Linked DNA regions of Homo sapiens. The protein of the gene in region 4 purifies or fractionates together with the protein of the main gene of each other region. This does not show direct contact. Each region holds a gene or a part of one and is shown on either strand. Other genes may lie near its edges.

The links.
Region 1: the proteins of POP1 (region 4) and RPP30 purify together in Homo sapiens (affinity purification with mass spectrometry; 6 studies listed by BioGRID and IntAct, with this or other methods). This does not show direct contact.
Region 2: the proteins of POP1 (region 4) and METTL17 purify together in Homo sapiens (affinity purification with mass spectrometry, with the first as the bait; 2 studies listed by BioGRID). This does not show direct contact.
Region 3: the proteins of POP1 (region 4) and MEPCE purify together in Homo sapiens (affinity purification with mass spectrometry; 2 studies listed by BioGRID). This does not show direct contact.

What each region holds. Positions count from the first base shown.
Region 1 is NC_000010.11:90,888,952-90,895,975, reverse strand, and holds part of RPP30 (ribonuclease P protein subunit p30), read right to left. Parts: intron 1,202-7,024; coding exon 1,085-1,201; intron 523-1,084; coding exon 493-522; intron 97-492; coding exon 59-96; intron 1-58. UniProt on the Homo sapiens protein: Component of ribonuclease P, a ribonucleoprotein complex that generates mature tRNA molecules by cleaving their 5'-ends. Also a component of the MRP ribonuclease complex, which cleaves pre-rRNA sequences.
Region 2 is NC_000014.9:20,985,980-20,992,979, forward strand, and holds the start of METTL17 (ribosome assembly protein METTL17, mitochondrial isoform 2 precursor), read left to right. Parts: upstream 1-4,000; 5' UTR 4,001-4,023; coding exon 4,024-4,098; intron 4,099-4,250; coding exon 4,251-4,404; intron 4,405-4,484; coding exon 4,485-4,619; intron 4,620-6,144; coding exon 6,145-6,226; intron 6,227-6,561; coding exon 6,562-6,643; intron 6,644-7,000. UniProt on the Homo sapiens protein: Mitochondrial ribosome (mitoribosome) assembly factor. Binds at the interface of the head and body domains of the mitochondrial small ribosomal subunit (mt-SSU), occluding the mRNA channel and preventing compaction of the head domain towards the body.
Region 3 is NC_000007.14:100,425,392-100,432,833, reverse strand, and holds the start of MEPCE (7SK snRNA methylphosphate capping enzyme), read right to left. Parts: upstream 3,004-7,442; 5' UTR 2,816-3,003; coding exon 1,145-2,815; intron 1-1,144. UniProt on the Homo sapiens protein: S-adenosyl-L-methionine-dependent methyltransferase that adds a methylphosphate cap at the 5'-end of 7SK snRNA (7SK RNA), leading to stabilize it.
Region 4 is NC_000008.11:98,120,291-98,127,314, reverse strand, and holds part of POP1 (ribonucleases P/MRP protein subunit POP1), read right to left. Parts: intron 3,980-7,024; 5' UTR 3,978-3,979; coding exon 3,836-3,977; intron 1-3,835. UniProt on the Homo sapiens protein: Component of ribonuclease P, a ribonucleoprotein complex that generates mature tRNA molecules by cleaving their 5'-ends. Also a component of the MRP ribonuclease complex, which cleaves pre-rRNA sequences.

The DNA.
Region 1 (7,024 bases), on a different chromosome or scaffold from region 4:
TCAAATTCAAAATTTCCTGAAAGACAATGTCAACAACTTTTTACTCAGAAAAGGATACAGATTTGCCACGTCATATGGCCCTCTTATTTCTAAAGGCTGAAATAAAATGAACAAAGAGTAGATATGAGAAAATTATTTATAACATTTCAATGACTTATAGCAAATTAATAGAAAATTTAAGTATCCAAAAATAAAAAAATTACATAAATTTAAGTCCTTATAATTTTGATGGGTTTCATAGCTTTTGAAAATATAAGAGAAGCTTGAAAGGCATTTTGTAACAGTATAAAAGAAAAACTGATTATATAAACAAAAGTTGAAGCCTAAAGAAAGTGGGGATAAATTTTACTATTTAGCAATTACAATGAGCAAATGCAGTTAAAATAGAAAAAAATGCAACAAATATTCATTTACTATTTTAATTTATCCCCTAGAAACTGAAAAGTTTTATAACCTGAAAGATGAAAACAAAGTACTTCATGCTAGACTTACCCTTTCTGCAGCACTAGATATAATTACATTCTACAAAATAGAAAGTGACTAATATTAATCTTAGATAAATGTAAAAAAAGGAGTTTCATAATATAAATAGCCAGTAATCATATTTTAACATTTAAGGCTCAAATACCAACTTCTTTTAAAGATAAGGTAAATAATTAAGGTGAAAAAAATGAAAAGACTTCATGTCAAACTAAAGGCAATCTGTAATAAAAAACAAAATATGTTTTCCTAACAGATCTTAGTAAAGGTGAATTAAGTTTAAAAAACAAGATGAAAAGGTCACATATCTTAATTCAACTCAGTGAGGACCATTGTTATTCTAGACTTTTCTTTCACAGTATGTAAATTGCAAATTTTTATCAAAAGATATGGCTTCCAACACATCTTTTTCTCCCTTACATTATTCTTCCCTTGGTATTTTTCTTTCCCTTAAAATTTGCAGAGCTCACTGAAATGGCAGAATTTGTTCCTATGCTATGAGAACATTCTGCTTTAAGGAAAAGGAGTCAGTTTGACAATTCCAGTGTACTACTAATAATAAACTGCCAGATGCGAAAAACATCCTAAAATTATAGAACCATACCTTTCCTTTGCAGATTTGCATCAAATTGAGGGCACTGGAAATTGTATACCTTCTCATTGTGGAGTCTTTGATAGCAGGGCTATAGACAAGTTCAAAAGCCAGGCCTCGGTCAATCGCCTTCACAGGAAATAAAGAGAACTGTCAGAGATAAGCATGCACTGGCCTACTTCATTTTCACTGATTCTCTCTTCACATCCCTCCTCACTCCCTACTACTGACCCCTTACATGTCAAGGTACAGCTTTATGAAAGACAGATCAACACTCAAATGGCACCACCCACAAGGAGAAGAAAATAAATCCGTGGCTCTACTTGATTAAGAGAGTTTAACTTGGCTGTGGGGAAGCTGACTTTACATAAACAGGAATTATGAAGAGGCTAAGAAGAACAAAGTCCCAATGGCGTGAGAGAGGGGCTACTACTCCATGAACTATCAAAAGGAAAACAGAAATGTACTCCCTACATTTACAGTAAACTGTATACAAACATAGTAAACCAAGTAATCTGACCTATGAATGCACAAAGAGACAAAGAAATGAAGAGCTGAAAAAAGCCCAAAGAACCAAGGGCAGGAAGGTCTTTCAGGTAAGTAATTTATTCTCTATATGTTGAAGAGAGAATAACAGCCATAGTTAATTGAGTGCTGACTATATGCTAAGAGAGTCTTATATATAATATTTAATCCTTACTACAATACCTTTATAAAGCATTACTGCAAAGCCTGCAAATTGCCCAGATATCTGTCCTCTCCTTTTTCTTTAGTAATAAAGCCCCTGATTTTTCACTGGGCTTATAGCCGCACAGCAAAAAAGATGGAAGTGCCCTTGAAGATTTTGCCCAGCTCACCATACAAGCTTGGCTTTTTTCATGAGAAACAGAAACTTCTTTATTTAATGTACTCTTACTACAGAGGGATCCACAGGTAAGTAGATGAGTGGAAATGATATTGAAATTAACCACCATACTGTTCAGCTTTCCTAATGAGCACCTAAATGTCTGCATCCATTCACAAAAGATGTTTTAAGCCCACTACGTGCAAAAGCTGAGATGGTTTCTCCCTTCTAAAAGCTTACATTTTAGTGGGGGAGATGATCAATAACCACACAAAAATACAAAACTTCAACTGTGTTAAGTGCTATCAAGGAGAAGTTTAGGGTTGAGGAAGAAATTAAGCAGTTAAATAGTAGAGGAAGGTGCACTTTCAGAGGGAGGTCAGAGCATGCAAAAGTCTTCAAGGTTGCAGCATGGCAGCACGTAGGGAAGGTCAAATGCTGGAGAAAAATAATGAGGAAGACAGGCTAAAGAGGATGGGAAGGGCCAACTGTGCAGGCCTTTAGAGCTGGTGATGAGGATTATTCCTAATGGAGAAAACATCTGAAGGATTTTCAGCATAGAGATGATAATCAGACTCTCAATTGCAAAAGTCACTTGAGTGGCAGTACTCTTTCAAAAGAATAAAGAAAGAATGGTAGGCATGTTCTAGGCAGTATGGTCCAAGTCTCTGCTTGGCAAATGAGTTTCGATTGCCCAGAGTATAAGTTGGGACTGGCCCAGCTGTGACTACTGGGGTTTACTCCTGAGCATTTACGGGGAATGGAGAAACTTGTCTTTTTCTAGAACTGGCAGTCCATCTTGATTTAATTCAGTTGTACTTGAAGGCCCCTTCTGCTTTTCCCTCCCGAACACAGATTTCCTTAATTCTTCCTCCGGCTTCAAGGCTCCCAGATTTTATTTTAGATTTTCCTATATGTCTGATTCTAGTTTGGTTAGAATTTAAATGCTATTTTCCACACTGCAACCTTTCCCTCTCTCATTTTTTGACTTTTCCCCATCTCTAATTCTTTCACCTGTGTTGATTATTTCTGGGAATGACATTTGTTAAGATAGTATTTCTGTCCTAGTTGAACGTGTATCTCATTGGCTCTGCCAAGCTTGCACACTTCTTGAGAGCTAGACTGCCTTTTACATAAAAGGTGTATAATATATTTATATTTTGAGTGAATAAATAGCAGCTTATGGAGAAGATGTCCTGTGATAACGTTGTTCATTATAGATGATCCATCATCAAAGGAACCTCGGTGCACCTGGCTAACCAAAAACCACAGATAAGTAAAAACATCCCTTTTAGCCATATTATCAGCCATCTCCTTGGCTATATATTTTACCAAAACTACTAATTAGCTGAAGAGGCTGACCTGTATTTCTTTTCCTTATCCTTCTAGTTGTGGAACGATAATACAAGGCAACAGGATGATGAAGAGGGGAAATAAATGAAAGAGGTGAATGATATATAGAGTTGGATGCTTAGATCTCGAAATATTCCTAATTGACTGAATCTAAATTTCTAGACCCTTGTGGGTACCAAATCAAAATAAAAACAACTTTTGCGGGGGGAGGGGAGAAAAAAAGGATATTATCAGCATAATTATTTTTTAAGGAAAAAGTTCTGATTTTCATCTTGGTACATTAATCAAGTTCACTTTAAAACTGCTATAGGAATTCTTGAAAAAGAAAAATTAAAAATAATGTGCTATTGAAGGTTGTGAATATTTCTTTCATAGCATCTTATTTTAAATTTTTAGATGGATAAAATACAGACTCATTACCTGGGATCTTGCTGTAAGACCATTTTGATGCAAATTGCCTAAAGCTCATCAAATGATTGTTCCTAACAGCCTCTTCCTAACAGTGCCTGCCTGATTAGCTTTTGTTCTCATGTCTGACCAAAGGTTCTGGCATGGGTGGATGATCACATTTCTTTACTAATGAAAAATAATGGTCATAAAGATGCTACTAAGGACAGGTGTGTGACAGTTGAATCAAGATACATTGGTACTAAAATTCCAAGTATTAAGCAAAGCCTTAGAGAAAGACGAGAAGAAAGTAAGGAGCTGATTACTGGGACAATATACTGATTCCCTGTTAATTTCATAAAAATTAGTTCTTTATTCAATTCAAATGAATGAAACCCTTTCAGTGTTTAAGACAGGTAATTTGTCCACATGACTCACAAAGCAACATAAGAAAACAATAAAAAGTACTACTTGCATCTCCAATCCTATCTGCCCTATCCCTTCCTCCAATAATCACTTTTATTAATTTCTTGTGTCTTCTTCCAGAGTTTCTTCATACAACTATAAGCAAATACGAAGAGATACTATTTTTCTTTCCTATCCAAAAGGTAGTCTGCTGCATTGTTGTCCTGACATGAAAGCTCTTCCAAGTCAGCTCATAACTTCCTCTGTTTTACAGTTGTAGAGTATCATATTGTAGAGGTATAGCATGTATTTAACCAAACCTCTACTGAGAGCCTTTGGGTGGTTTCAGTGTATCTGTAGAATAACACTAAAGTGGGATTGCTAGGCATAATGGGTTGAATTGCGTCCTCATCCACAAAAGATACAATGAAGCCCTAAACCTCAGTACCTCAGAATGTAATCTTATATTTGGAAATAGGGTCACTGTAGATGTAATTAGTTAAGATGAAGTCAGATTGGAATAGGGTAGGCCCCTAATCCAATATGACTGGTGTCTTATGAGACGATGGCCATGTGAAGACATAGAGACAAACAGGGAGAACACACTGAAGACAAAGGCAGAGACTGGAGTTACGTAGCTGCAAGCCCAGGATTACCAAAGATTGCCAGAAAATCACCAAAAGCTAAAAAGAGGCAAGGAAGGTGGTCCTATAGATTTCAGAGGGAACAAGACCATGCTGACACCTTGATTTCAGACTTGCAGGCTTCAGAACTGTGAGATCATACAGTTTAAAACTGTTGTTTAAATCAGTAAACGTATTTGTAATTTGAATAGTTGTTGCCAAATTACCCACTCTCCGCATAGGGACTGTTCTCATTTACACAGTTACGAGCAAAATATGAGAATGTCTGCTTTCCTGCAGCCTTACAACAGAGTGTATCTCTAATCACACAGGTGATTTTAATGTGAAATCTCTTACTATGATAAATTTAATCATCTTTTCATATGTCTAAGGCCTGTTTGCATTTCCTTTACTGTGAAATGCCTTTTTCATATTCTTAATCCATTTTTTGGTATTGTTCATCTTTTTTTTTAACTTATTAATTTCTAGGCACTCTTTGGTCTTTATGTGTTAAGGGAATAAGCATTTTGTCTATGACATGAGTGAAAATTTTCCATCAGTTTGTCATCTGTCTTTTAACCTTGTTTCTGGTGTTGTTTGCATTTTTTTTTTCCACAGAAATTTTTAATACTGGCACAATTTGCTGGCACTGAATGGACACAGTACTTAACACATTAGATTCATGTGTGATAAAACAAAGTTTACAGAACACTCACATCCAAATCAAGTATTTATAGCATGATTCATGGAACTACCTCACTGTTTAGATACTACTTACTAAACATCTCTCAGTGGGGAGTAATCGGACCACGAAGACAGAAATGGATTAGGGTTAAAGGAAGGACTGAGGGGAAAACATCAGAGAGAGTGTAAAACATATAAGATCCCTTAAAATAACTCAATAAGCTTGAAGTCATTGTTAAGTGACAATAACATTGAAATGGAAATAACATTGTAAAAAAATCAAAGGGAAAGTAAAGAGATACGTGCTGTTTTAAGAACATCCTTCTTCTCACAACCTGAATTCATAAAGCTCATGTTTTAAAATATGAAATTACTCTGTGCTTAACAAAGAGTTCTGCTGTAAAGTAACTTTAAAAAGCATTTCCCAGTAGGAAATAACAGCAGATTTGGAATCAAAGCTTGAGTACAAATCCCTTGTCAACCCCTTGAGAGAGTCATTTAACTGTGTGAACCATGAACTACCTAAGATTCTACTGTATTACCTGCATATGGAGATAATTAACATCTACCCCATCCCAAAACTGCTGGGCCAAAGCAGGTATCAAACTGCTTATGTCATAAAATGCTAAATAATCTGAAGTCATGTGATTATTCAAGAAAAGGAGTGGAATCCAATTTTTTAGAAACACATCTATCACATGACAGAAATGCGATGACAAGTTACTTAGACTCCAGAAGAGGTTTGTGGGAGATTTTAGAGGAAATTGCATAATTGAAATTATGGTGCCCTAAGCATACAGTGAAGATGACAAAAGGGAAAAGAGCTGCAAAGTACACAAATGGAGTGTTTGGTATGCTATAGAGCTCCTGGGCCCTCCTTCACAATCCCAACCTTCCAAGCTGATGATTCTCACATGGCATCTGGCCTATTGGTAAAAGATGAATGATTTACCTTTCTTAATACTGCTTTTCACCACAACCAAAGAAAAGGGCCCACATCGTGACAAAATTAAGATCTGTGCTTAATTTAAAGTATCCTGGCCGAGGCGGGTGGATCACTTGAGGTCAGGAGTTCAAAACCAGCCTGGCCAACATGATGAAACCCCAACTCTATTAAAAATAAAAAAAAAATTAGCCAGCTGTGGTGGCGGATGTCTGTAATCCCAGCTACTTGGGAGGCTGAGACAGGAGAATTGCTTGAACTGAGGAGGCGGAGGCTGCAGTGAGCCGAGATCACACCACTGCACTCCAGCGTGGGTGGACAGAGCGAGACTCTGTCTCAAAAAAAAAAAAAAAAAAAAAAGTAATCCTTATAAAGTGATCCTTTTAAAGCCAATCTATGAACTTCTCAAGGCCAAAAACAAGTTTACACTCAAAGCCAAGGGAACATGCAAGGACCAAGACTGTGCTCTCACAATGTATACATTTCCATACTTTATGTAGACAAACAGCTCCACAGCCAGACTGGATATTATGTTACAAATAATACATACATACCTATGCCACAACTATTATTTACTCTGAACAACAAGCTAGACACCTGTATGTTTCCAACTTTCTCTCTTTAATAAAAAATAGGTGAATAAATTAACAGGGACTCTTCTGCTTCCTGACCAATTCACAGTGCAGCCTACTCTTCTACTAGATGAAGACTAA
Region 2 (7,000 bases), on a different chromosome or scaffold from region 4:
ACCACTTCCCATAACACAGTCTCCTCCTCTCCTAGCTTTAGCCCTTAACACAGAGTGTGGCACATCTAACATGGTCAGTAAAGAATTCCACCAACTCAAGAACGAAAAATAAACTCCCTATCATGGATAAATGTCTTTCCCCATTATATATCTTTCTTTCCTCTTTATCTTCTCTTTCTTCATCCCTTTCTTCTCACATTTTTTCTTCATTTTCTGTATAATAGCAAGTCTCCTAGGCCAGGTGGCTGTGCTGGCCATTCCCAGTAGTTCTCAAAAACACAAACAGATCCTTCTGGAAAGTTCTGTCTTGAATTGGTCCCTGTTGCAGGACAGTACATTAGAAATGGTATTTCTAGAAGGCTTGGAGAAGTAGATGATAAGCCAGAGTTTCCTTCTTGGGATTCCTCTCCCGAGTCTGAACTGGAAACCATTGACCTAGTTGTTAAACAATGGAGGCCCCCAACCCAGAACATTTTAATGGGATAACTTTTAGATTTTCTTGAGAAACATGAACTGAGAATAGAAAGACTTCTACATTCTCTCACTGCCCTGGCCATTCCGGTCCCTATTTCAGGGTCTCAGTCCCTCAGGAGAGATATACGAGACCCCCAATGGGTGTCCAATCCTTGGATTTTCCTCTAAGACTTTATCCATGTGTTAAGAGTCCACAATGCACCTCCAAAGAAGCTCCTGTGTGACCACCATTCATCTTCTGAGGATATCAGCGATCCTTTCATGCCATCCCATGCCAAGACTAACACTGCTCTGTGGTGATCCCCCATCCTATATCTGTAGGAAGCCATGCTGGGTCTGCCCGAGCCAGAGTTTTCAAAATCTATAATCCCTCCAGAACCTCCTTGCTTTCCTCAACATAGATTTTTGCCAAAGGAGATCAGATCCAATTGGAAGATCCCTCCCCCGCAGCAGAATACTTTGTAATTGGATTAGTCTCAACAGCAACAGTAGTTCTGGCCTTGAATATGAGTTAATCAGCCAAGTCACAACACAAGAAAGCTGACTGCACCAGAAAACCCTGTACAATCCGTGAATTTCTTCATGGTTGAGACTCAGATGAATCATCATGTTGATCTGACTCATGCTTCTCCCTGCCTTAGGCCAAGAGACTGAGGCTTCACCTGGGATCTGCCTCTTTCCCACTCAAGAGTCAAATGAGCCCCCAAGGAGTAAGAAAAAAATGTGATTGATTCTGATTTGCACCCCAGTCTTTTTTTAATTTATCATAAAGAATCAAATATTTACATTAGAAGATATCTTGTGCTGTGAAAAAAAAGGAATAAAAGAAGGGAGGAAGAAAAGAAGTGGGAGGGTGGGAGAGAAAGGAAACAATAGAATAAGGCAGGCGCGGTGGCTTACGCCTGTAATCCCAACACTTTGGGAGGCCAAGGCCAGAGGATCGCTTGAGCTCAGGAGGTCAAGACCAGCCTGGGCAACGTGGAAAGACCCCATCTCTCGAAAAAAATAAAAAATTAGCCAGGCACAGTAGCATACACCTGTCGTCCCAGCTATTCAGGAGGCTGACGTAGGAGAATCGCTTGAACCTAGGATGTGTGGCTGCAGTGAGCCATGTTCTCACCACTGCACTCCAACCTGGGTGACAGAATGTCACCTGTCTTAAAAAGAAAACAATAGGCTAGAAAAAAAAGAAAAGAAAGCAGTAAGTGACATAAGACCAAGAGGAAAAAGGGAAACTTGAGCATCATCTGTCCTCCCAGTGGCCTACGGAGGGAAAAGAGTAGACACTTAGCTTCACAGTCCACCGCAAATCAGGCAGGGTCACTTCTGCAAACACTGGTAACCTACTAAAACCCAAGCACAGAATAAGACAGACACTGAGATTCAGAGATAAAGTCAAGATGGCTCCTACTGTTGCAGGGGAACTAGAATGACTCAGAATCCCAGACAGGTCATGTTTGAAGAGGCCATTCATTCACTCCCATTGAGGTGAAAGTTGCATCCCTTTCTCCCTTCTCTCCTTCTCTTATCCTGGAGCGCAAACATTGTGTGGAGTGCAAACATTGTGTGGAGCCCCTACATAGGCGCGGTGGCTTATGCGTTGGAGTTGAACTACTATGAAGGTACTTGAGATCTGGTGATTCCCTTGGATAAATTTCCTACAAGGAATCATTTCACAAAGTTTTATGGACAGAAAATGCCCATAATTTGGATGGTGGCTTTTGGAGCCGTGACATGATCTCAGCTATATGAATAGAATTATAAGGACAAGATGCTGAGGGATTTACTCAAGAGCTCTGACTAGCTGACAGTAGAATCTTGGCAGATCTTCCAACACACACATCTAGTATGGCCCAATCTTCAGAATTATCTGTGCATTTGGGCAAGAATAGGCCCCATCGCCAGCACCCTGGCATTTGGGCAAGACTCGCACAAAAAATGAGGGATGGCTTCAGGAGTAAGAACCTTTGAGACGGCCTGGGTTGTGGACTTAATAGTCTGGAGAGATATCAACAGGTATCAATTTAATTTAATGGTTCCATTCCTCAGATATCTCTAGGGCAGAGTCCTCAGCCCAGGGCACACACAGAATCACGACTCTGAACGTGAGCATTCTCACTGGAGGGGTAGAGGTCACTGTGGTGACCCTTTTGAGCACCCAGGAAAGATTCCCAGGTAAAAGGAGGACTGAGGAAAAGCTGGAAAAGAGGCAAGTGTCAGCCTAGGATGTGTCAGTGGGCCATGCATTCATCTACAGGAAGGGCGGTTCCGCCTGGAAGAGGCAGAGCGGCCCTTCTCCCCCTGTCCACCCATGTCTCCTCACCCCACCTCACCCCGAGATGAGGAGCCCTGAGAGAGCTGGCAGGCTGCAGTCGGTGAGGTCTGCAGATTTGGGGAAGAAGTCGAATAAGGTAGAGAACCACAGAAGGAAAGTCCAATTAGGGCGCTGGGGCCTGAGATCATCAGGCCCTAGCCTGATGACTCAGGAGTCTAGCCCTCCAGATGAACTGGCTGGTTCCACACACAGGTCAAGTGGATGTGCTGGGAGAACATCCTAAACCTGTAACGGAAATTAGGGGGCCAGGAGCCCACAGAAATCACACACTGGGTGAGCTCAAGTGTTCGGAGACTGAGGTAGCAGTTGTCCACTGTCAGGTCCCGAAAGTAGATATCGCCTTGCATATGCCATTTATCCTTCTGATGCTCTAGTGAATGAAGGTGTTGATGAGCTTGCAGACTCTGGAGACCATTCCCCTATGCTATATTATCACGTCACAATAGTGGCTGGACCCACCTGAGATTCTGCACCTCAGGTAATCAGACGGCTACTGTCTAAGTCCTGGGCCTGGGGGAAACACTCTGACGTAGCAGCAGACACAGGAGGGTCCCCGTCAGAACCATGTTTTCTGTGAAGTGGGGATCAGTCCTTTTCCCTGAAGTACCTAGCACATAGGTGTTCTCAGTAAGTGTTATGTTAGCTTACTAAGAAGACTGGTCTCATTTGAAGAGAAATTAACAAATGTAAAAAAATAAATAAACCTATTAACTAGGTTTAATATTTATCAAACTATTAACTATTCAATAATCATTTAACTATTAATTTCTGTTTTCTTCAGTCGCTTAAATCTGATTTTTCTCTTCTTTCCGTTACTGCAGTCTCCCTTTTTCACACAGGGAAACAACCCAAGACTCAGAGTTCTCCGCGGAGGAATGCAAAGAACACAGGAAGTCAGTACTCCCAGAAACAGTCTTTGCTGGCGCGCTCACACCCAACCCCATCCCGCCCCCGTCCCGTCCCGCCCCGCCCCACCCCACCCTCTTGATTTCTGGGGCCGGTGACCAGGCCCAACGCAGCCTTCAAGTCGGCCCAAACACGGTTTCTGCCTCAAGGATTATTTATATAACCATTGCTTATTGGCTGCTGGCAAACACTCGCTCTTCTCGTTGGCTGAAACTGTCGGGAGAAGTTCTGCGAAGGCTGCTCCTTGCGGCGTTGGGACTGAGGGTCACAGGCACCTGTATTTCCGTTTCCGGTTCGCCTCCGGAGCCATGGCGGCGGCACTGAAGTGTCTACTGACATTAGGAAGATGGTGCCCCGGCCTTGGAGTGGCTCCCCAGGCCCGGGTGAGTGCCTACATTCCCTGCTGTCGGAGAGACTCTGGATCTGCAGAGACATCTCCGCGCAGAGGAGGAGCGCTCCTGGCAGCCCCCGCCCTAGCGATTGCCAGCAACTTTCCTTTCTGCCAGGAAATCAACCTACCTTTCTCTGCCTGCAGGCGCTCGCCGCCTTAGTACCCGGAGTGACCCAGGTAGATAACAAGTCCGGTTTCCTGCAGAAGAGGCCTCATCGCCAGCACCCTGGCATCCTAAAGCTGCCGCACGTGCGGCTGCCACAGGCACTGGCTAACGGTGCCCAGTTATTGCTACTTGGTGAGTAACGGCGGGAAAGCGAGAAGAAACGGGACTGGACCTACATGCAAGTGATTCCGCTTTTCGTCTTTGGCCCATAGGGAGCGCTGGGCCCACTATGGAGAATCAGGTGCAAACACTGACCAGTTATCTCTGGAGCAGACATTTGCCTGTAGAGCCAGAGGAGTTGCAAAGACGGGCTAGGCATCTTGAGAAAAAATTCCTGGAAAACCCAGGTAGGACTTAAGAATAATTAAAAAGTGGGCGAGATTGAAATATCGGTTAGAAATGAAGAGTAAGAAATAATTCTACAATCTCTCAGATACTGAAGTCTCTTATTTGACTTTCTAACCAGAGCAGCAGTTGTTACAATGATGCCTTACTAAAAGAAGGTAGATTATTTTAGAGATTGCTTAGGTAAAGGTCAGAATGTCCCAGTATACTGTTTTTTGTTTGTTTGTTTGTTTTGTTGTTTTGTTTTTGCTTTGAGACAGAGTCTTGCTCTGTCACCCAGGCTGAAGTGTAATGCTCGATCTCGGCTCACTGCAACCTCCGCCTCCCGGGTTTAAGTGATTTTCCTGCCTCAGCCTCTTCAGTAGCTGGGATTACAGGCGTGCACCACCACACCCGGCTACTTGTATTTTTAGTAGAGACGGGGTTTCATCATGGTGGCCAGGCTAGTCTCGAACTTCTGACCTCAGGTGATCCGCCCACCTTGGCCTCCCAAAGTGCTAGGATTACAGGCATGAACCACCGCGCCTGGCTACCAATATACTGTTAAAATCTAGATATTTATTTTTTTCTGCAAGTCCACTGGATTAGGACCTTCTAAGTTTTTATTCAGGTAAAATAAAGTCCCTGGATGGTCCCTGCCCAGTACTGAAACCCTCTTCTGGGATAAGAGGGTAAATATAATTCATCAAGTTAGTTTCATGATTGTGAGCTCCTTGACACTACCATTTATTCATCTTGCATTCCCTGCACACCTCACAGTACCTGGCTCACAGTAGTTCAGTAGATACTTGCTAAATAGTACTGAACTGAACAGTCATGAGACGTAGATTTTCAGATTTCTTTCCTCTCCATAGGAATAGTGGAGATCATCAAAACCTTAAATTTTGGAGAAGTGAAGAAATCCAAAAAATAATGTCCTTGGCCTACCCTTTAAAAAAAATTTTTTTTTTTTGAGACAGAGTCTTGCTCTGTTGCCCAGGCTATAGTGCAGTGGTGCGATCTCAGCTCACCACAACCTCTGCCTCCCGGTTTCAAGTGATTCTCCTGCCTCAGCTTCCCAAGTAGCTGGGAATACAGGTGCACGCCACCACGCCTGGCTAATTTTTGTATTTTTCGTAGAGAAAGGTTTTCACCATGTTGGTCAGGCTGTTCTCAAACTCCTGACCTCGTGATCCGCCTGCCTCAGCCTCCCAAAGTGCTGAGCTTACAGGCGTGAGCCACCGCACCCAGCTTACCCTTTAAATTTGTATCACACTTTCCTTTAATATAAAACAAACCTGTGGGACAGGATTGGTTAAGCTGAATAAACCATTCTTATAAATAAAATGCTATCTGATACAATCTGTTAGTGGTAGTTGTTACCGTTAATTCTTGCCTGAAACTTTTCTCTAGGTTTGTCGTCTCCCTTGAGCTTTAAGGCTTTTCTTAGGTGGAGTCGGGGAGGACTGGGTGGGCAGTATATTCAGATATTGGATCTGAGCCCTGTTCTCCCTAGGTCCTGACTTCCAGTCCTTGTTCTCACCACAGACTTATCTCAGACAGAGGAGAAACTTCGTGGAGCAGTGCTACACGCACTACGTAAAACTACCTACCATTGGCAAGAACTGAGGTAAGGGGGCCCAGAAGAGGTGCACAAGAAAGCAAAGGTAGACTTTAGAAAGAGAGTTGGGGGAGTACAATTACACAATCAATTTAGTATTTTCTTTTATATCACCTGACCTTAAAAGGATCAATTTAGTATTTGAAAAAGCTAAAGTACAAAGTTTTGAACACTGAAGTTTGAAAATTTAGTGTTTGTAAGTCTCCCCAGGACCCTTTTGTATTGGGGAGTGAAAGGCCTGAGCTGGAAGAGCCCTTTCCAAGATGTCATTTTCTAAATCTAGAAGGTAATTATGGGATTAAGGTTATTTACTAGTATGTACAACTCTGTGATTTTAATGGCAGCTACACTGAGGGACTGAGCCTGGTGTATATGGCAGCAAGACTGGATGGTGGCTTTGCAGCAGTCTCCAGAGCATTCCATGAGGTGAAAGTCCCTTAACTTCCAACCTGAACTTTTTGACCATCAGTTCCCTATTCATAAAGTAGTTTTCTAGGATGGGGATTCTTGGGACATTGCATATGCATTTTTTTTTTAAAGAGGATCTCCGCTGGACATAGTGGGCTCCTGCCTGCAGTCCCAACTGTTTGGGAGGCTGAGGCAGGAGGATTGCTTGAGCCAGTTTGAGGCTGCAGTGAGCTGTGATCTCCACTGTACTCCAGCCTGGTGACAGAGTGAGACCTCATCTCTTAAAAAAAACACAAAATAAAGACGTTCTCTTTATCCTGTGAAAGCTTTCTGTGACCCAAGAAAGGTTTAGAATCACTATTTTAGGAGATTCTT
Region 3 (7,442 bases), on a different chromosome or scaffold from region 4:
CCCGCGGCCTCACTTTAGCCCGTGGCCACTTTCTTCTCAGACTAACTCCCAAAAGGTGCCTGCCCTCTTTGAGTTTTGTTTTCTCCTCTACACCTTCCTGCCTCTGCTTCTTCCTACTGGTGGTAAGCCAAAAAAGGTCGACGGAGCCTGAGTAATTTTAAATGGTGCAAATTATCCATGAAGTCTTCCAAAGCTAGGGTCCCAGGACCATATCCTGTGTTTATTCTCACTCACAGACATTAAGTGGAGTGACTGCAGGTTCTGCAAGGGTAACTAACCCAGGTTTCAAAGGCAGACCTGTGGTTCCTTCCCTGCAGTTGGGGCTGGCAAAGTTTCAGGCCTATTCTTTCCTTTCTCTGAGAGAAATGAAGAGCCACATCCTTTAGGAAGCCTTTTCTAGAAGCTCAGCTCATCACAACCCTCTAAAAAGACCATTCTTCAGGCTTAACCCAACACAATGCCAAAGATCCCAGTAGGCAGCCTAACTGGAGTGTTCTCTGGGGAGCTGTGTGCAGTCAGGGGACTCTGCAGGGCACAGGACTCTCTCCTCTCTGCAGAGGAGTTTCTGGTTCTTCCCTCTCCCACTATCTAGGGTCAATGTGGAGAGGATCTACAGCCAAACCACTTGGGTTCCTGACACGCTTCAACAAACTGTCTAGGAAAACAAAAGCCGCTGATAGGAGCAAGGTGGCTATCAAAGGGCAGAAACGCCAGTATTAGTCTGTCGCTACCCTAATCTCCTCCCTAGAAGACATTCCATGTCTGACTCCCATTCTCAGGCTCCTTCAGTAAATCTGAGGACCAAGTTCCACCTGGATCAAATTCCCTAGTGAGCAGCAGCCTTCAAGGGAAGGGAAGGTGGACCAGTGTGGATTATAGGCCAAGCCGGGAGCAGAGCAAAAAGAGAGTCCTCCTCTATCTTGGAGATCCTTGCAGTCATGACAAAGGACTCCAGGGTCAATGCCCCAAGGTAGACACCCCACCTTTCCAGGTTATAAGAGGGGAGAGACGCCCAGCAGAGGCTCTCACTTGCCAACCCAGACCCCTCTTTTGAGGATCTGGGTCATAACCTTCCCTGCTACATTCCCATTTAATCTCATCTTCACACCTGGCCCCTATTCCAAGAGCCTCTGGACCCTCTTACCGTGACGAAGACAACATTGTTGGGGAAGACTGATGTGTCCGCTCCATCCAAGGGCACTTGGGGGGCAGCGATGGGACCCCGGCTGGCAGTCAGCGAGGCTGGGAAGCAGCTCCTCTTTCGAACGGTGGTGGTCCCTTCCTCACCCTCTGCCCCCGGGTCCCCTTCCAAAGTCTGGGGTGGGAGACGCAGCTCCTCGGAAAGGTAGTGTCGGATGTTTTGGCGGGCAGAATGGATGAGCCGGGAATCGATATCCAGGCCCACCATGCGGGACGGGCCCCACTTGCAGGCAATGCTCAGGGTCAGATGGCCCACATTGCAGCCCAGATCTAGGACGTCCCGGCCCCGAAACCACTCAGGCTTCAACACCCGAAGGCGCCCATCCTCACAGGAAGGATTGCGGTACCCATAGTATTTGCAATAATTCCCATACTGGAACTTGCGCTGTTGCTTTTTGAAGCCTGCTGCAGGCAGTGGGTGGTGGTGGTGGTGGCGGCCTCCCCAACTCCCTCGGCCCTTTTCCTTGGAACCCTGGCCTCCACCCCTAGCCCCTGCCTCCGACTTGCTGGAAGTCCTGCGACGTTTGCGATGTCGGGAGGAGGAAGATGGGGGTGCAGAGATAACTGAGGCAGCTGGAGGGGCTGATAGGGAGCCTGAGGGACCCTGCAGAGCAGATGGAAGGGGAGACACCACTTCATCCCTGCAGTTGATGGCTGTGTTGAGTTCATAGGGTTGGGGGGCATCCCGGTTCTGGCCCCTGTGCCGCGGCTGCTGTGAGGCGCCCTCCCCGTGGAGTAAGGGGGTGAGAGGGGCTGTGGGCGGCACGGGGTGACTCTCACTCCCTCCGGCTGCCTGCTGCTGCTGGTGGTGCTGTCCCCGGTGTCTATGCCGCTTCCGACCAGTCTTGAGTGGCGAAGCAAGAACTACATGGCCCTCATCAGTGCAAGTATTGAGACTGAGCGGGTCAGTAATATCTTTGGGGATGAGGATCTCCACCGGATCTCGCCCTTTGGCCGGAAGGGGGGATGACTTAGGGGTCTCCGCGTTGAGAGTGCGGCTCACTTCCTCATCCAGGAGGCTATTCAGGTTCAGGGGATCAAAGATATTGCCCCCCAGGAGGAAGTTGGAGGGTAACACAGAGTCACAGTCCGAATTCACCCGCCTGCGCCTCTTGAAGGCCGGATGTTTGAAGCCTCCCCCGCCTCCCCCTACATTACAGCTATTTCTCCTCTTGCCCCCGCCCCCCCCAGGTGGCCGGTGGGGCTGATAGCCATTGCGGGGTCGAGGAGGAGCAGGGGGACCCAGCTCTGTCCCGCCCCCTCCCCGGCGCTCCTCCCCCACGTCCGGGGGAGCGGCTCGCCCCGGGGGATCCGACAGGCGGGCCTCCCCATGCGACTGCGCCTGGGGGCCGCCCCCTCGGTGCTGCTGCGCCTGGGGACCACTGGAGGAGGTGGCCGCGGCCCCGGGGCTTTCCCGACCGACCGCAGCGGCTGGGGACCCCGCAGATGGCGCGCAACGACCCGGACCACGCTCCGTCCCGCCGCGGAGCTCCCCAGAGGCGGCCTCTTGGTGCGGTGGCACCGTGGGGCCGCCCCCTCCGCCCGACTCATCTTTGAGCGGCGGCGGCGGGGCCGGCACCAGAAACGGCTCCTTCTCCGCCGCCATCTCGATCATTTCCTCCCCTTATTCCGTGCCAGTCGGGGTAACGAGGGGGATCAGGGGGCCTAACCCCCCCTGCCTGGACCCTGCTCCCTTCCCCCCTTTCCCGAGTGCGCGCGCAGCTCTGCTCTTCACGCCTAGTCTCGCGCCCAAGCGCCTCCCCGCCAAGTGCGCCCTACTAGCCCGCGAGACCAAAACAAGAGGCCCGCGAGACCCGAACTACTCGAGGACTCAACCGCGCGTGCGCCGACCCCTTTCTCCTCCGCCACTACCACCCGGCCGCGAGCGCGCACGGTGAGCGCGCGTTCCCTTCGCCCGGGAACCACGCATGCGCACTCCGCCACCACCCTGGTTGCGCGCGCATCAGACTACGAACCAACTTAACGGCTCTGGGAGTTTAAATATAACCCCCCCACAGCCCCCGCAAAAGCCCACCACCCCAAACTGACACCCTACTTCCCTGCGCAGCTATGTCCGGCCCTACTGATCTCCTTTGTCTCTGCCGCGCGATCCCACCCACCGTAGGCGGGGGACGGGAGCTGGTGTGAAAAGGTCTCCTTGACACCCGACCCTTGTTCCTGAGGAATGAGTCTCAGCGGTCTCCGCCCGGCTCTAAATCCAACAACCTCCCCACCCCGCCTCCTTCCTCCCCCCTAGTGGGCAGCGCCTGCGCACACCCTTTTGGGCTTGCGCGGGTAGAGGCAGCACGTGCTGAAACTGGCGCCCCGCCCCCCGTCTTAGGGGTTGGGCCTGTGACGTCGCTTCCTTAAGTTTGGTAAACGCAGCGTGCGTCAGCGCGATCCGGAGGGGCGGGGCTTCCTGACGAAGGGCGGGGCTCATGAATTATTCATGAGCTGTTGGTAGCAAACCTCCCCCCCTCTGCCCACCTTCTTAGAAGCGCTTCCGAGGGAGCGGAGGGGAGACCCTACAAAGCCAAGGAAGGGCGGGAGTGGAACTGGGCTCAGTAAAACGCGATAGGTCATTATAACTCACCCCCCTTGAAAATATTCTCTGCTGAATTGGGGAAAAATAAAAAGCACTAAAACAGCCGATGTTGTCCAACTTCCTCTTCCCCCGAAACGGCTGAGTCGTTCTCTGGCTCCTCTACCTTCCCCCAATCGCAATCACCTGGAGACGCCACACCACGCCTTCCTCTCCGCCTCAACACCCACGACCCGAACCCCAACGCATCCGCCCACTCCCGACGCCCGCTCACTGGCCCGTCAGTTCGCGGGCCTCTCAACACCCACCGCGGCGCCACGCCGACTTATATACCAGCGAGTGTGGGCGGGGACGGGGGTTCGGTCCGCGCTGGGCCCCCCCAGCTTCTGCCAATGAGGAAGAAGCGAGTCTACGCCGTTTTCCCGGGGAGATGCGCCGCCCGGTCTCCCTGCCAGCGGAGTGCTGGGCCGAGGACAGGGCGGCAGGGGTGACAGTGGGGTCCAGGAGAGTCTCAAAATCCTAAGGTGAGGGCGTGAAGGAGACCAGCAGGAAGAGGAGGAATTAGAGAACGGAAAGAGGGAGGAAAAGGCAGTCTGAAACAGAAAAGTTAGTAGATGTGCTTCAGGAACAATCAGGCGCCGCGGCCGCCGCCTAAAAATATGTGACACCAAAGAGGATTCTGGGATTTGTAGTTTTCCCGGGACGTTCGGGTGGAAGATGGCGGATTTACCTCAGCTGCGGAAACGCAGACGCTGTTTCCAGTTGCGCATGCGCCTCGGCCCCGCGAGCGCACCGCCCTCGGGTGGAGCTAGTGCTCAGGGCGTCCTCGTGCCTTTTCTTGGTGGCGGGAAACCTGGGTTGAGGTGTGAGGGGCTTGCGGAGTCGCTGCGGCAGCTGGTTCCGCCCATCGCCTTTAGGTCCTCCTTGCTCCTGAAGGTAGCCAGCTAGTTTCTGGTTGTAGGTGAAGGTGCTAGGCGCTGCCAGTCCTGGCACCCGTTGCCTGAGGAGAAACTTTCTCAGGGCGACAACCAGCCCTTCGCCCTTTTTCCTCAGAATCTGTCGCCCCCAAGAAACAGACAAAAAAAAAATAGCCCAGTCTCCTGGCGGGCACCAACGATATGAGTGAGAATAAGGATCACGGGGCCTCGGCAGGAGTGGGGGTGGAGGGGAGATTCCCTCATGGTGGGAGGAAGGAAGGGAGGGGACGGGGAAGAGAGAGGGGGACGTGTGGCTCAGGGACACCGACTTGAACCGCTATCCCTGAGAGAGAATAAGGGGTGAGGGAAGAGAGGAAAAATGGGAGCGCCCCACAAATGGGAAGAACTTCTCTGCAAAACTTCTTCCCTTTGGATTGCAGGTGGATTTGGAATTGGGGCTTTTTTTTTTTTTTTTTTAAAGACTGTCTCGCTCTGTCGCCCAGGCTGGAGTGCAGTGGCGCAGTCTCGGCTCACTGCAACCCCCACCTCCTGGGTTCAAGCGATTCCCCTGCCTCAGCCTCCCGAGGAGCTGGGACTACAGGCGCCCGCCACTGTGCCCGGCTAATTTTGTATTTTTAGTAGAGACGGGGTTTCTCCATGTTGGCCAGGCTGGTCTCGAACTCCTGACCTTAGGTGATCCGCCCACCTTGGCCTCCCAAAATGCTGGGATTACAGGCACGCGCCACCGTGCTCGGCTGATTTTTTTGTATTTTTAGTAGAGACGGGGTTTCACCGTATTGGCCAGGCTGGTCCCGAACTCCTGACTTAAGGTGATCCACCCGCCTCTTCTTTCTTGTTAAAAGTTTTAAATCGGGCTTGCTGAGCTTGTGCACAAACACGAAGGAAGAAAGCAAGGGAGGGAAGGGGGAGGAAGGAAGGAGGGAGGGAAGGGGGAGGAAGGAAGGAGGGAGGGAAGGGGGAGGAAGGAAGGAGGGAGGGAAGGAGAAGAGAGAGAGGGAGGGAGGAAAGGGAGGAGGGAGGGAGGAGGGGGAGGAAAGGGGAGGGAGGGAAGGAGAAGAGAGAGAGGGAGGGAAGGAGAAGAGAGAGGGAGGGAAGGATAAGAGAGGGAGGGAGGAAAGGGGAGGGAGGGAGGAGGGGGAGGAAACGGGAGGGAGGGAAGGAGAAGAGAGGGAGGGAGGAAAGGGGGAAGGGAGGAGGGGGAGGAAAGGGGAGGGAGGAGGGGGAGGGAGAAGGGAGGGAGGGAGAGGAAGGAAGAAGGAGGGGAAGCAGGGAAGGGAGGAGGGGGAGGGGGGTAGGAAGGAGAGGGGGAGGAAAGGGAAGGAGGAGGGGGAGAAAGGAGAGGGGGAGGAGGGAGGGAAGAGGGAGAGAGAAAGGGAGGAGGGCAAGGAAGGAGGGGGAGGGAGAGAAGGAGGGGGAGGAAGGGATGGAGGGACAAAGGGAGACAGAAGGAGGGAAGAAGGAAGAGAGGGAGGGAAGAGGGAGGAAGGAGTAAAGGAGGGAGAGAGGGAGGGAGAAAAAGTGAGAGGGAGGGAGGAAACTGCTATTAGTTAATTGAGGCATGAAAATAAGCAGGAGTCCACATACTGTTATTAATGCAAAAAGGAAGATCAGACTCTGGCTTAAAAAAGATTTGAAATATACTTTTTTTTTTTTTTTTTTTTGAGACAGAGTCTCACTCATTTTGCCCAGGCTGGAGTGCAGTAGCACGGTCTTGGCTCACTGCAACCTCCACCTCCTGGGTTCAAGTGATTCTCCTGCTTCAGCCTCCCAAGTAGCTGAGATTACAGGCGCCTGCCACCACGCTGGCTAATTTTTGTATTTTAGTAGAGATGGGGCTTCACCATGTTGGTCAGGCTGGTCTTGAACTCCTGACCTTAGGTGATCCACCTGCCTTGGCCTCCCAAAGTGCTGGAATTACAGGCGTGAGCCACTGCGCCCGGCTGAAATATACTCTTTAAATACCGCTTTTTTGAGGCTCAGGGAGTCTGGGTTAGAGGACAATGCTAAAGGGTTTACTTCTCTTAGACCAAGGATTTGAGGAACAATATAAGGAAGGGAATGATTGGATGGTTAGGAAGAGGAAATTTGGGAACACATTCTGAATGGTGTGTGGGGAGAGAGAATTACTGTTTATTTAAAAAAGTATTGGCAATACTGACAAGTTATTTCACTAGGTCAGTTCTCAAACTTTTTGGTTTGAGAACCCTTTTATACCCTTAAAATTTATGGAGGACTCCAAAGAGCTTTTATTTGGTTTGTATCTGTTGATACTAACATTTTAGAAATTAAAATTCAGAAACATTTAAAGTTTGATTAGAAATAACAATAATAAATATGTTAACCTAAACAGGTTTTTATGAAAAATACATTCTCCTAAACAAAAGAAAATTTAGCATGAAGAATGGTGGTGGTTTACATTTTTGCAAATCTCTTTCATGTCTGGCTTAATAGAAAACAACTGGGTTCTCGTCTGTTTCTGCATTCAGTCTGTTGGGATATCTTGTTTTTGTAAAAGTACATGAGAAAATCCAGCTTAATACAGATAGGTAGTTGGAAAAGGGAGAGGGCCCCCTAGGATTTTGGGACTACACTTAGAACTGCTGAGTTAGGTGATTTCATCTCAAAATTTATGTGATGGTTTTTAATGTTCTAAGTGAAATAAAACTCTTTTTTGAGATCCTCATTCACCTTCCCTTGGTTCCCTTTATTATTTCTAAGTTCTTTTTCCCTCCTTATTTACCCTCATTTCATATGTTGAGTGA
Region 4 (7,024 bases):
AACGGTGCAACATGAATTTCAAATCTAAGCTCCCTGCTATGGTCTGAATGCTTATGTCCCCCAAAATTCCAGTGTTGAAATCCTAACCCCCGAGGTGATGGTATTAGGAGGTGGGGCCTTTAGGAGGCGATTAGGTCATGAGGGTAGAGCCTTCATGAATGAGATTAGTATCCTTATAAAGGAGTGCTCACAGAGACCCTCGCTCCTTCCACCATGTGAGAACCAGTGAAAAGGTGCTGTATATGAACCAGAAGGCAGGCCCACACCAGTCACCAAACCTGCCCGCTCCTTCATCTTGGACTTTTCAGCCCTCAGAACTGTGAGAAATACATTTGTTATTTATAAGCTACCCAGTAAGATACAGGTTGTGTATCCCTCATCTGAAATAACTGGGACCAGAAGTGTATCAAATTCCAATTTTTTTGGATTTTGGAATATTCGTATATATATAAAATGAGATATCTTGAGGATAGAACACAAGTCTAAAGACAAAATTCAATTACACTTCTTTCGCCTTATCATACACAGCCTGAAGGTAATTTTATACAATATTTTTAATAATTTGTGCATGAAACTTTTTGCACATTGTATACTTGAACCATCAGAAAGCAAAGGTGCCACTATCTCAGCCACCCTGTGGACAATCTGTGGTTGGCTGGCATCAGCATCCTTCCTGACTCTGAATCTATATGCTACTGATAAGCAATCACTTTCTTACACTTACTCACATGTAAGTATTTAACAGTAAAAATTACATGTATTTTATTTGTCTTTGTGGGTGTGCTTACGTGGTGAAATCTGGGAGTGCTTGGAAATATTTATATCACAGCTGAAGGGGGCTGGGAACATCTTTTTTCCCATGGGAATGCTGAATAAACTGTGTGTTATATGCCTTCATTCTGACTGTGACCCATCACATGAGGTCGGATGTGCAATTTTCCACCTGTCATGTCATGTCGGCGCTCAAAAAGTTTTGGATTTTGGAGCATTTTAGACTTCAGATTTTTGGATTAGGAATGCTCAACCTGTATTTTGTTACAGCAGCCCAAACGACACTCCCTTAATACTATAATCCACATGATTGTGTACAGTCTTTTATCCTAACTCTCTGCCACACTCAAATTGAGAGCCACTATACTAAATAAATAACTAAAAGCAAAGTTCCAGGATGGATGTGGTGGCTCACACCTCTAATCCCAGAACTTTGAGAGGCCAAGGTGGGCAGATCACTTGAGTCCAGGAGTTTGAGACTAACTGGTCAACGTGGCAAAACCCTGTCTCTACCAAAAAAAAAAAAAAAAATTTGCTGGGCATAATGGCACATGCTTGTAGCCCCAGTTACTCGGGAAGCTGAGGTGGGAGGATCACCTGAGCCCAGGAGGTCAAGGTTGAAGTGAGCCACGATTGTGCCATTACCCTTCAGCATGGGTGACAGAGTGGGATCCTGTCTTAAAACTTTAAAAAGCAAAATTTCCAGCCAGGCACAGTAGCTCATGTCTGTAATCCCAGCACTTTGGGAGGCCAAGGTGGGTGGATTGCCTGAGCTCAGGAGTTCAAGACTAGCCTGGGCAACATGGTAAAACCCCGTCTCTACTAAATACAAAAAATTAGCTGGGTGTGGCAGCATGTGACTGTAGTCCCAGCTACTCGGGAGGCTGAGGCAGGATAATTGCTTGAACCCGGGAGGCAGAGGTTGCAGTGGGCCAAGATCGCACCACTGCACTCCAGCCCAGGCAACAGAGCAAGACTCCATCTCCAAAAAAAAGGCAACATTTCCATACAAGTGTCTGGGCATTATGACTATAAGACAACATTAAATATCTGTCTGTGGCCGGGTACAGTGGCTCACGCCTGTAATCCCAGCACTTTGGGAGGCCGAAGCAGGTGGATCACTTGAGGTTAGGAGTTTGACACCAGCATGGCCAATATGGTGAAACCCTGTCTCTACTAAAAATACAAAAATTAGCCAAGAGTGGCAGCACACGCCTGTAGTCTCAGCTACTCAGGAGGCTGAGGCAGGAGAATCGCTTGAACCCAGGAGGTGGAGGTTGCAGTGAGCCGAGATCGCACCATTGCACTCCAGCCTGGGTGACAGAGCAAGACTCTGCCTCAAAAAAAAAAAAAAAAAAAAAAAACTGTCTGTAAATTAAGGGAGAGATCAGTAGAGAATTTTATAGTGTTTCTGCTTATTTCAATTGTGGTGTTAATTATTAAGCCACTATAAATCTTAGAACATTGTGAGGTTTAAATGAGATAAAAAAAATGTGAAAGCCTTATCATATGGCATGGTAGGCATCAACTGTAGGATCTGAATCTAGACCTTATGAACTTGACTCTAAAATTTACTTAATCAGACCCAATGCAGTTTTTTAAAGCACTCCAAACAAGTCCTTGGACACTTGCTTTTGCTGTCTTCCCAAATTAGCACTTTCTACCGCTGCCCTAATGAACAACTGTGATCTTCCTATCACTTCATAAGGTTCTAAAATCAGCACACCAGTGAAATACAGATATGATGACTATACTGCACTTCTCTTAGGAAACACAGAAGTATAATAATCATTGATGTTAAGGTAGAAATAAAATATACCAGCTCTAAAATATGCATAGCCAATTTTCATTATTTATAGTAGTCATGTTTCATACGTCCCTGAATTACGTCAATGAATTAGTGAATACTGAACCATTCCTCCTAGTGGGGATACATACATATCTTCATCTCACATAGATTATAATCTTTTTTTTTTTCCTTTTTTTTGGGACAGTCTCACTGTCACCCAGGCTGGAGTGCAGTGGCACGATCTTGGCTCACTGCAACCTCCACCTCCCGGTTCAAGCAATTCTCCTGCCTCAGCCTCCCAAGTGGCAGGGACTACAGGCACACACCACCATGTCTGGCTAATTTTTGTATTTCTAGTAGAGACGGAGTTTCGCCATGTTGGCCACTCTGGTCTCGAACTCCTGACTTCAGGTGATCCGCCCGCCTCAGCCTCTGAAAGTGCTGGGATTACAGGTGTGAGCCACCGCCCCTGGCCATATTATAATCTTAAATCCAAAAAACAACTCCTCCTGGTAGAGTTTATTTCCTTTATTTTACAAAAGAGAAAATGAAGTCTAGAAATGCTAAGTGACCTGCATGAGGCTGCCCCAGGGCTGAGATTCAAACCCCAGGAGAGCTGGAGCTTCCTGCACTGTACTGCCCTGCCCTTATACTGCCTCCATCCTCTGCCCATTTCTGCATGACAGCTGGGAAGCTCGGCTGGGAACGTAAACACAGGGAAACTCAAATTTTTCCTGCTCTATGTATGTCCACAAATGATAGCCAAAGCTTCATGGGTATTAATATTGGGGTTACAAATAAGCTTTGGCAAGTAGGCAAACTTGCAAATAGGAAACTCAAAAATAATAAGGGTCTACTGTATCTGTTTTTAATTCAGCTCATTTACTATTTAGATAATGACTATCAAAAGAGCTGACAAAAGCAATTTGATCAAAATGGGAGTGGAGAGAGCATCATGTGTATCTTTTTTTTTTTTTTTGAGACACAGTCTCACTCTGTCTTCAGGCTGGAGTGCAGTGTCATGATCTCAGCTCACTGTAACCTCCACCTCCCAGGTTCAAGCGATTCTCCTGCCTCAGCCTCCCAAGTAGCTGGGACTACAGGCACGCGCCACCACACCCAGTTAATTCTTGTATTTTTAGTAGAGACGGGGTTTCACCATGTTGGCCAGGATGGTCTTGATCTCTTGACCTCATGAACCGCCCACTTCAGCCTCCCAAAGTGCTGGGATTACAGGCGTGAGCCACCATGCCTGGTCTCTTATGTGTATTTTACCTTGTTTTTGAGCTTGGAAAGGTTTTTCACCTCCACTGTGGTGCTTTACACCTCTGTCAGCCACAAAGCCAGAGGACAGAGTCACATTGGTAGGCTGGTTTCTCATTTTCTTGGCGTGTTTTCTTTCTTTTGCATTTGACATTTCTGGAAAGGAAGTAATACATTTAATACAGGGAAAGGAAACTTCCACTCAAAAATAAAAATAAATTTAATGAGTAAATATTCATGTGATTCAAAATAAGTCTATTGATGGAAGAGACCCTATTAGTATATTGCAGTTTGCACTGTCAAATAATTAAATCATATACAACTGTTGATACCACATAAAGTCTGTTAGAAGAATGAAAAATGAGATAAGATTGCTATGGATGATAAAAAATTAATTAGTTCAAATACTTTACCTTGATTATTAGATGAAATAAGAGCCACCTGAATCAATGAAATACAGAACACCCTATTCCAAAAGGAGAAACTCTATTAAAAACAACACAAATTACTGACGCTTTCATTTCTACTACTCAGATGATGCCAGCTATATATTTAATTTATAATAGCAATAGATAATGATTTCAATTTGAAGCAAGATAAAGGACAAAAACAGTGGGACCCCGACTGATTTACCAGTCAGTAGTTCCCAACTCTCAAACTCAACATCCCCTATTTTTACTGATTCAGTTTGAAGCAGCTGTTCTCTATTTTTAAATGAAATGAATGTTATAACCTATTAGACACATATCGAGACATACCCTACAATAGATGCCCTAAATGTAACATAAAGGAGACCTAAGAAGTAATTTTAATAAAATAATATGTATTTCTGTATGTAACTATTTCACCACAACTACACTAGATGATATTATGAATAGATTTTGAACCCAGGGAATAATAACATCCACACAGGCACCAGCACAGGCATTGGCACAATCCATAAAGCTGGATGGTCCTGGAAGCCCTTCAACCCCAAGGTACCAGTGATTAACTCTTTCATTGCTAACTGCAGGAAATCCGAAGGGCCCTATACATGGACACACTAGGAGGTAGGGAAGCTCAGAGCAGCTGGTATTTACCAAGCTGTTCTCAAAGCAGTTCAGTATTTTAATACCAGTCTTTACTTCTACCTATACATAAAATTACCATGAATTCAACAGCTACAAAGGCAAAGCAGCACAGGTGTGTTGTACCAGTGCCTCAAAGAGAAGGTAGCAATGCCACTAATGACGTAATTTTCCAAATTGGTCAACACTCCTTAGTAAACTACCCCCACCCCCGCCACCCTGCCAAAAAAAGTACAAACTTGCTTTGATTTACTGCATTACTGGAAAATTCAGTGCATATTAAAACGGTGTAACCAGGCCAGGTGCGGTGGCTCATGCCTATAATCACAGCAGTTAGGGAGGCTGAGGCAGGCGAATCACTTGAGGTCAGGAGTCCGAGACCAACCTGGCCACCATGGCGAAACCCCATCTCTACTAGAAATACAAAAATTAGTTGGGTGGGCCGGGCGTGGTGGCTCACGCCTGTAATTCCAGCGCTTTGGGAGGCTGAGGCGGGCGGATCATGAGGTCAGGAGATCGAGACCATCTTGGCTAACACAGTGAAACCCCGTCTCTACTAAAAAAATACAAAAAAATTAGCCAGGCATGGTGGCGGGCGCCTGTAGTCGCAGCTACTCAGGAGGCTGAGGCAGGAGAATGGTGTGAACCCAGAAGGTGGAGCTTACAGTGAGCCCAGATCGTGCCACTGCACTCCAGCCTGGGCAACAGAGCAAGACTCCATCTCAAAAAAAAAAAAAAAATTAGTTGGGTGCAGTGGCGCGCACCTGTAGTCCCAGCTATTCGGGAGGCTGCGACAGGAGAATCGCTTGAACCCAGGAGGTGGAGGTTGCATTGAGCCGAGATGATCACACCACTGCACTCCAAGTTGGGCAATAGAGCAAGTCTCCATCTCAAAAAAAAAAAAAAAAAAAACCCGTGTAACCAATAATTTTATATAAATTAGGTACTGGGCTACTGTGGGGCTTTTCTGCACATAGCAGGCTGTCTAATATCCCTGGTCCCTGCCCAATAAATGCCAGCAATGTTAGCCCAATTATGCCAACCAAAACACCTACACAAACTTCCAAAATGCCAGCCACATCAGAATTTGCCCACTTCCACTGAGAGCCACTAAATTACCCCCCATTCACTTACTTCCTTTTCCAATGCAAGACCTCACACAAAATTAAGACTTGCCTATATGGTATAGTGTTTAAGGGCTTTCACTATGGAGTTTGAAAGATGTGGGTTCAAATTCCTTCTTTACACTTTTTAGTTACATAATCTTAGGAAAATTACTTTCTCACTTTCAGCCTCAGCCTCTTCCTCTACAAGTTGCTGTGAGAATTAAACATTATATACAGGCCAGGTGGGATGGCTTATGCCTGTAATCCCAGCACTATGGGAGGCCAAGGCGAGTGGATCACTTGAGGCCAGGAGTTCAAGACCAGCCTGGCAAACATGGTGAAATCCCATCTCTACTAAAAAATACAAAAATGAGGCCGGGAGCGGTGGTTCACGCCTGTAATCCCAGCACTTTGGAAGGCCGAGGCAGAAGGATCACAAGGTCAGGAGATCAAGACCATCCTGGCTAACACAGTGAAACCCCGTCTCTACTAAAAATACAAAAAATTAGCCGGGCGTGTTGGCGGGCGCCTGTAGTCCCAGCTACTCGGGAGGCTGAGGCAGGAGAATGGCGTGAACCCGGTAGGCGGAGCTTCCAGTGAGCCGAGATCGCGCCACTGCACTCCAGCCTGGGCGACGGAGCAAGACTCCGTCTCAAGAAAAAAAAAAAAAAATACAAAAATGAGCCACGTGTGATGGCATGCGCTTGTAATCCCAGCTGCTCGGGAGGCTGAGGCACGAGAATCCTTTGAACCCAGGAGGCGGAGATTGTGGTGAGCCGAGATCACGCCACTGCACTCCAGCCTGGGCGATAGAGTGAGACTCTGTCTCAAAATAAAAAAATGAACAAACATATACATACTGTACATGGTTTTGGCTTTGCAAAATGCATATACACAACTCACTTAGCATGGGGCTTTATGCTAACTAAATGCTCAGTTTATGGTAGCTATTATTCTTAAATAATAAATGAAATAGCAGGGATTGATGCCATTTCACTGTCTCACTCCACTAATTTCAACTAAATGAA